2 separate regions of the Homo sapiens genome follow, and region 1 is linked to region 2. Evidence: fine-mapped expression QTL. A gene starts in region 2. The other region holds a variant in brackets. All regions are shown on one strand. Distances are from middle to middle. Region 1 overlaps LINC02086 (long intergenic non-protein coding RNA 2086). Region 2 holds the start of LINC03057 (long intergenic non-protein coding RNA 3057).

Evidence for each region. PIP is the estimated chance that this variant, and not a neighbour inherited with it, causes the effect. A credible set is the group of variants that fine-mapping cannot tell apart.
Region 1: its variant is the best candidate, but not a certain one, in a credible set for the expression of LINC03057 in whole blood (INTERVAL, PIP 0.64).

The regions. Positions count from the first base shown.
Region 1 is chr17:48,683,842-48,688,234 of GRCh38, reverse strand. LINC02086 (long intergenic non-protein coding RNA 2086) reads right to left here. Exons shown (of 8, transcript NR_189645.1): 5 at 283-328. Among named protein-coding and RNA genes, the nearest start is that of PRAC1, 36 kb to the left of the region's middle. The variant TG/G (reference allele first, on the strand shown) is at 2,003.
Region 2 is chr17:48,645,107-48,649,428 of GRCh38, reverse strand. LINC03057 (long intergenic non-protein coding RNA 3057) reads left to right here and starts at 2,577. Exons shown (of 2, transcript NR_186590.1): 1 at 2,577-2,824. It overlaps LINC02086 (long intergenic non-protein coding RNA 2086), which reads right to left. Exons shown (of 8, transcript NR_189645.1): 1 at 3,067-4,322. RefSeq lists enhancers at 1,784-1,993, 2,884-2,933, 2,372-3,040 and a silencer at 2,484-2,663.

The DNA of each region.
Region 1 (4,393 bases), 39 kb before region 2:
ACTTTGGGAGGCCAAGGCAGGAGGATTGCTTGAGTCCAGGAGTTCAAAACCAGCCTAGTCAACATCGAGAGACTTTGTCTCTCCCAAAAAAAAAAATCAGCTGGGCGTGGTGGCAAGCACCTGTAGTCCTAGCTACTGGGGAGGCTGAACTCAGGAATTTGAGGCTGCAGTGAGTCATGATCGCGCCACTGCACTCTAGGTTGGGTGACAAAGCGAGACCCTCCCTCAAAACAAACAAACAAACAAAAAACTGTTACATGACATTTGAACCTCCTCCCTTACCTCAAGAATATAAGTGGTCCTGAGTGGAGCTTTGTGAGGAGATTATCTATGGGAAGAGATAGTCCTGTGTTGTAAGCTCCCCTCCCAATGTTGGGGGGTACCAAACTCCCTGCCAGGAAGACTCAGGCAGAGGCACATTTTGTATGTCTGGGAGGATGTATGTTGCAGGCTAGGAAGCCACAAGGCAGATTGGAGTGGGACTGCCACCCCAGTCACAATGACTCTCTGACTGCTCCCCTTACCCACGGGTGACAGCCATTTTGAGCAGCGGGACCCTGTTCCTCTGGTCCCAGTTTGAATTAACTGGGACAGAATTCCTTCCTATAAAATGTATAATAGAGACAAAGAGGGGGAAAAAACCCCTCTTTGGGTAGCTGAATCCAGAATGTCGCATTCTTCCATTGAGATTTGGAGGGGGGAGGAGCTGGTCTGCAGAGACAGAAAAATGCATCAGACCTGAAGAAAAAAGAAGCAGAGATGAGAAGTCGATGACAACTTGTTCCATGAGAGGAGATCTGGATTGAATGCGTTCTATTTTCTTTTCATCAATTCCCCTTTTTTGTTCTAGCTATATATATGTATGTATATATGTGTGTGTGTGTATATATACATATGTGTATATATGTATGTGTGAGACCCTGTCTCAAAAATATATATATATACAGTCCCAGCCTGTAGTCCCAGCTCCTGGGGGAGGCTGAGCCCAGGAGTTCAAGGCTGCAGTGAGCTGTGTGTGTGTGTGTGTGTGTGTGTGTGTGTGTGTGTGTGTGTGTGTATATATATATATATATATAAATATGTATATATATAAATGTGTATATATAATATATAAATGTGCATATGTATAAATGCGTATATATATAAATTCATATATATATGAATTTCAAGGCTGCAGTGAGCCATGTGAGTGTATATATATATAAATGTGTATATATATAAAAATGTGTATTTATATATAACATATAATATATAAATGTGTATATATAAATGTGTATATATATATAAATTCATATAGATATGAATTTCAAGGCTACAGTGAGCCGTGTGTGTATATATATCTATAATATTTATATAATATATCTAAATATAAATGTATATATATAAATGTGTATATGTACATATGTATGTGTGAATACACACACATATATGTATTATTACGTACACACACACACACACACACACACACACACACACACACATATGGCTCACTGCAGCCTTGAACTCCTGGGCTCAGCCTCCGCCAGGAGGTGGGACTACAGGTTGGGACTGTATATATATATATTTTTGAGACAGGGTCTCACTCTGTCACCCAGGCTGGAGTGCAGTGGTGCAATCATAGCTCACTGCAGTCTCGACTTCCTGTGCTCAAGTGATCCTCCCACCTCAGCCTACCAAGCTGAAACTACATGTGCACGCTGTCAGGCCCAGCTAATTTTTTTGTATTTGTAGAGACGGGGCTTCTCCATGTTGCCCAGGCTGTTCTTGAACTCCTGGGTTCAAGCCATCTGCCCGCCTCAGCCTCCCACAGTGCTGGGATTACAGGCGTGAGCCACGACGCCTGGCTAAGCTATCTTGTTTTTCATACGATCCATGGGGTACATGTGAAATTTTATTACATGTATATAATACATAACAAAGAAGTCAGGGTTTTTAGGGTGTCCATCCTCCCAATACAATACATTTTTATTAACGGTAGTCACCTTACTCTGCTATCAAACAT[TG/G]AATTTATGCCTTCTATCTAACTGTATGTTTGTACCCTTTAACCCACCTCTCTTCATCCTCCCCTCTGCCCCCAACTTGTTTAAGCTATCTTGAGTTGGTTTCTGGTGTTTCAACAAGATTCATAACTAATGCAACTGCTAACATTCCTCAATCATTTGTCAAATACCATTTGGCATATTCTGTTGTTCAATCATCTACTCTGCATCTACTCTCGGGTCTCCCTGAACTTCTCCACTCCGTCCATCCTCTTCCTCCTCCTCCACATTCGGGGACCCCTTCATAATTCAAGTCAGGCTTTCACATATGCTATCTGTGATCGTCCCAGGAATCCTGTGAGCTAGTTGTTGTTCCTATTTCAGTTCAACAGTCCTTTATCAAGTACCTACTAAGTGCCAGGAACCAAGCTGTAGAGTCCATTCTCCTGTTCTCCCATAGCACGAGTACACAATCCCTCTCTAAAATCTCTGGGGCTCAGCCAGGTGCGGTGGCTCATGCCTATAATCCCAGCACTTTGGGAGGCCAAGGCAGGTGGATCACCTGAGGTCAGGAGTTCGAGACCAGCCTGACCAACATGGTGAAACCCCATCTCTACTAAAAATACAAAAATTAGCCGGGCGTGTTGACGAGCACCTGTAATTCCAGCTACCCAGGAGGCTGAGGCAGGAGAATTGCTTGAACCCAGGAGGCAGAGGTTGCAGTGAGCCGAGATCGCGCCATTGCACTCCTGCCTGGGCGACAGAGAGAGACTCCATCTCAAAAATAAAATAAAATAAAATAAAATAAAATATCTGGGGCTGACGTACAGACTCACTCGAACATGCAGGCCTGGAGGCCCACATATCCATGCCTAATATATTTACGATATGTAAATCAAGTTAACAAGCTACTAAATAAGAACTGTCTTCTGAGTTGCGCATGGTGGCTCATGCCTATAATCTGAGCACTTTGAGGGGCTGAGACGGGATGATCACTTGAGCCCAGGAGTTCAAGAACAGCCTGGGCACCATAGTGAGACCCCCATCTCTTTGAAACTAAACAAACAAACAAATAAATAAATAAGAGCTGTGTTCTGTCCTATGTTGATAGATATAGCCAGGGTCAAATTTACAATTTTGGATAACTATATCTATCCCCTTTCTCTTTGCACACTCAATTCTATCCTTACCTTGAGTGGTCTCACGGGCACATGTGTGGACATTTTAGTTTGCACAACCAGCCTCTATCCATACCTGCTGCAAACAGCTGCTCTTTGGTTATGTCTTGGCCTTAAGAGTGCATATGACAGCGGTAACCCCCACCCCCCACCCATCCAGAGGGTAGACCAATTAAAGAGATCTGCACAGACTTTGGACCACTTGGGCAGCAAACTCCAGTGGCCCAGGTACCTGGGACATGATCTAGAGTTGGGGGGGCGGTGCTCAGGTGGTGAGAGGCCCTTCATTTTGCCTCACAGGCCTACCTAATCAGCAAGGGCTATCTAGAAGAAGGGCAAAGTAAGGCCCTCCAAAATGTGGGGTCCTCTTGCGTGGGTCTAAGATGAGCCCTGAAATTTAGAAGTGTTCAGTTTTCAGAGAGATATGCTGCACACACTGCATATTATTCATTCCCCCAGTGGGGTCTGGGGAGAGCTTGAGCAAATATGTTGGCACTTTTGCAACAAAATACATTAATATTCATTCTAAGTGAATGAAATAAAGACTATAAATAGTCTATAGATGTCTCTATAAATTCCTCATGTCATTTCAAGTCAGATTTTGCCACCACTTGAGTCTGTGCCAAACTTAAGAAAAAACTTTTGGCCGGCCTCATGCCTGTAATTCTAACATTTTGGGAGGCCAAAGCAGGACAATCGCTTGAGCCTGGGAGTTCAAGTCCAGCCTGGACCATATAGCAAGACCCCAGTCTCTATAAAAGTAAGAAAATTAGCTGGGCACAATGGCACACACCTGTAGCCCTAGCTGCTTGGGAGTCCGAGGTGGGAGAATCCCTTGAGCTTGGGAGGTTGAGGCTGCAGTGAGCCGTGATCATGCCACTGCACTCCAGCCTGGGTGACAGAGAAAGACCCTGTCTCAACAACAACAACAACAACAACAACACACACACACACACACACACACACACACACACACACACCTTTCCAATTTTCACAGCTTTTGAGATTTCAGAACTTGGAGATAAGGAGTTATGGAACTATAATAGAGTTGTAATATAGTCATTGCTGTTCAATTGATGACACATTTCTAGCCTTTCTTTCAACTAAGTGTAGCCATGTGGCTAAGCTCTCAGCAAGAGAATATGAGCAGAAGTCATGAGGGCTGCTTTGGGTCTGAACTTTTAGGCACCAGGCACGTATTTTCCCACAGTCTCTTCCCTCTTTCTCCAACCTGGA
Region 2 (4,322 bases):
AGGGGGTATGGAGGGATTGACCAGAGAGCTATTGATTGGTAGGAGTTACAATGGGGCCTTCTGGTAAGCCGGAAACATCTTGATCTAGGTGGTGGTTACACAGATGGGATCTATGCAAAAATATATTGAGCCAGAGGTTTAATATTAGGTTCTATAATACTATATATCAACAAAAAGTGAAGAAAAAGTAGAAAAATAGACCCAAATAGAAAAAATTCTGGGGCCGGGCATGGTGGCTCACGCCTGTAATCCCAGCACTTTGGGAGGCTGAGGCGGGCGGATGACCTGAGGTAGGGAGTTCGAGACCAGCCTGACGAACTGGAGAAACCCCATCTCTACTAAAAATACAAAATTAGCTGGGCGTTGGCCGGGTGCAGTGGCTCATGCCTGTAATCTCAGCACTTTGGGAGGCTGAGGCGGGCGGATCACCTGAGGTCGGGAGTTCGAGACCAGCCTGACCAACATGGAGAAACCCCGTCTCTATTAAAAATACAAAAAATTAGCTGCGCATGGTGGCACATGCCTGTAATCCCAGCTACTAGGGAGGCTGAGGCAGGAGAACCCGGGAGGCAGAGGTTGCGGTGAGCTGGGATTGTGCCATTGCACTCCAGCCTGGGCAACAAGAGCGAAACTCTGTCTCAGAAAAAACAAACAAACAAAAAAACAAAAACAAAACAAAACAAAAACATTTTGGAAGCAAAATTTAGTTTTGTCATATTTCTATATTCATGTTTACGTGGATATAGAATAAAATTCCCATTTGGATGCATTTTTCTCTCAGCGGTTCAAGCTCAACAGAACCTGCAAATGAGAGGAGGCTGCAGAAGCAAAGCATAAGAAGACATATCATGGCTAGGAGCCGTGGCTCACACCTCTAATCCCAGCACTTTGGGAGGCTGAGGCAAGCGGATCACCTGACGTCAGGAGCCGAGACCAGCCTGGCCAACATGGTGAAAACCCGTCTCTACTAAAACTACACAAATTAGCTGGGCGTGGTGGCACACACCTGTGGTCCCAGCTACTCGGGAGGCTGAAGTGGGAGAATCGCTTGAACTCAAGAGGCGGAGGTTGCAGTGAGCCGAGATTGCACCATTGCACTCCAGCCTGGGTGACAGATCAAGACTTCATCTCAAAAAAGAAGACACATCAATCCTAAATCTAAATGTGGTACACACCTAGGAAGACACATCAACCTTAAATGTACACACCTAATAACAGAGCTTCAAAAATATATGAAGCACCGAAAATGATAGAATTGAAAGGAGAAATGGACAAATCCACAATTATAGTAAGATATTTCAACAGTTCTCACTTGGTAAAATCACTTGTAAAATCACTCTGCCCATTTTACAGAGGAAAAACTGAGGCCTAAAAGGAGAAGGGGTGGGGGCTGAAGTCAGTGGCAGAGCCAGGCTTAGGACACAGAGCTCAGGCACACCTCTACATGCCCCCTGGACAACCACCTGCAGGAAGGGACTGGATTGTGAGGGGGTGTCCCCAGTCCCATGCAGGTTGAGGAGGAAGCAGGGTCTCAGGGCTGAGGTCAGGGAGGGGGGGCACTCCTTAGAGACCAGACAGCCAGGAATGCCACTGTTTGTCGTAGTTTCACTGATTTTAAGGAGGTTAAACCTCTATTTGGGTCTCAGAAATAAAGAGAAGAGCCTGCAATTCCAGGATAGCACGCTAACGAAGGGCCAAAACGCAAAGGCGTCCTGAGGGCTAAGATGGAAAGTGAAACTTTCAAGCTCCTTCTCTAACCTTGGCCAAGGTCGTTCCCTCTGGGTTCATAGAATAGGGAGGAACCCATGTAAGGCACAGGGAACAGAAGAAAGGAGGCAGGTAGAGGGACAACCTTCAGCCTGGTGCAGCCATCCCGGTCGAACAACCCCAGGCAGGAGCCGCTCGGTGGCCGAGGATGGCGGGAAGTCGCTGGGCTGCGGCTGGGGCGGGAGGTGGGCGGAGGAGGGTCCGGCGCTCTCTTTCTCCGGATTCGGAGCCCTAAGTGTGGATCAGTCGCCTCCCGCCCAGGGTGTGAGCGCCCCCTCCCCTTCTCAGCCTCCTTCGGCCTCGCCCCTCCCTCTCACATTTCCAACTCCCAAGGATAACTTGTCGCTCGCTTCAGACGCCCATGGCTTCTTTCAGCCCCTGGGACTCAGCTTTCTCCTCTACCTCTTTTGTCTATTTGTGCATTTGATGTTTCTCTGGGCGCGCCCTTGGATCTGCTTCTCTCTTGCCTTTTATATTCTCATATTCTCATATTCTCTCTCTCTCTCTCTCTCTCTCTCTCTCTCTCCCTCCCTCCCTCCCTCCCTCTCTCCCTCCCTCTCTCCCTCTCTGCCTCTCTCCCTCTCTCTCTCTTCTCTCTCTCTCTCTCTTCTCTCTCTCTTCTCTCTCTCTCTGCTCTCTCCGGCCATCTGGGCGCTGCTCCTCCGCGCCTCTGGCCTCCCCGCGGCGCGCCAGGCCCATCTCCTCACCAGCCGCTCTGGGATCCGACGGCGCCGTGGGTGGGGGCAGGTGAGACGGCCGAGCCCCGCCCGGGCGGAGGCAGGAAGCGCTCTCGCCTATCCCCCTCCCGGACCCTGTCCTCGCCCGCCACTCACCGGCGCCAGGGGAACGCAGGAGCGTGAGCCCCTTCGCGCCCCCAGCGCCGTCGGCGTCGCTGCCCCAGACACAGACACTGCCTCGAGAGGCCTCACAGAGGCGGGGGCAGAAGGCGGCGACCCAGAGCCGCCACATCCCCCGCCTTGGGCGCCGTCACAGTCCCCAGACGCCCTGGACTCCTGCAGTCTACGAAGACGCGCGGGGGACGGCGTGGTTCCGAGAGGTAGGTGAGGAGGCGGGCGCAGCCCTTCCTCTCGCAGCTGGGGACTGCGGCGTGAAAGGCCCCTCTCCAAGCTGGGCAGCCCCGTGGCCCGAGCTTTCAGGACCAACCGCCCGTGGCAGGCGTGGGCTTCCCGGGGCCACCGGCTTAACCTTGATCTCCAGACCGAGGCAGCTTCCCGGGTAGGGCCTCGGGGCGCACCCGAAAACGCCTTGGCCTCCCTGTCCGCTGGCACCCGACCCTACCTCTCCAACAGGTGTGTGTGTGGGGAAAGGGGGTCGCCTCCCCTCGTTCTACCGGAAACCCTGGCTCCCCAGAGCCGAGTGCTCAGTGCCCCGCCCAGCCTGAGGCCCTGCGTCCTGGGCCTCCTGCTCACAACCCCGGATTCCAGGCGGATGCCGTGAGAGAGGCAAGGGCCAGACGCCCTGAGCAGCCTTGGGGGTGAGGAATCGCTTGGGATGGAAGAAGGGCCACTTTTCCTAACGGAAATTAGGAATTGGCCTGGAACTCTTGGTCTAGACAGAAGCCCCCAGCTCCCCAAGGTGCAGAATCAGCTCTCCCGCGCGCTGTCTCTCTAGCTGCCTCCTGGCGTGGAGGGGGCAGAATACTTGGGGGAGTCTCTTGCTTTGGCTTTTGGGGGCCTCATAGGTTTTCTTCCCCTCTGGACTGTGAGCAGCCTCCTGCCTGAGAGAGCGTGTATCTGAATCTAAGGAATGCCAGGAGACGCCATCTTATTTGAAACCCACACTCACAAAAACGGGGCATGTGCATTTTTGTGGAGGGACCTGTTGTTTATGGGAGTGGGCAGAGGGCATCCAAAGGATTTCAAACTGTATGGACTGACTCATGGGTCAATACAAAAATTATTCGCCTTTGAAAAGGCATGTAAAGAAAAGCAAGCATAAAGGGGTGTGCATCGTGCATCGTGGGTATTGTGGAGTCTGAGAGGAATTAGTAACTCGCCGGAGTCGGCTAGGAATCTTATATGACAGCAACTGTGCCTCTCGGAGTAGTCAAGCACCGTTTAAAGATTGAGGATTTATACAGACATGCGAAAGAGATGTGAAATTATGTGCTCCCAACTGTGCTCAATAATAAAGGCAGTAGAAGGGAAATTCATATTTTCATCTATATGCCTCCCCCCTCGCAAAGTAGAACATTGCATGGTATATTTCACATAGTCCACATACCAGAGGCGGAATGTGCAACTGACTGCCCAGGACTGTGCTTTCCAGTACAAATGGAAGCACAAAGATGCCTAATGGAGAAGAGTTAAGTGAAAGTTCTCTTTTCTCAGTGCACTTCCCTAACCCTTTGAGGAAGCAAGTCTGGGGGGCCTTTCCTGATAGGATCTTCCCTCCAAATCCCTTTTGGAGCTGGAGCTCCTCTCTTTCCCTAAAGTCTGGCGCACTTGGCTCCAAGTCCCCATTTCTCCAGTCCAGAAGGGATGAAGCCTCCTCCACCCCAAACATATAGCCTTTGGCTCGCTGGGAGGAGAATT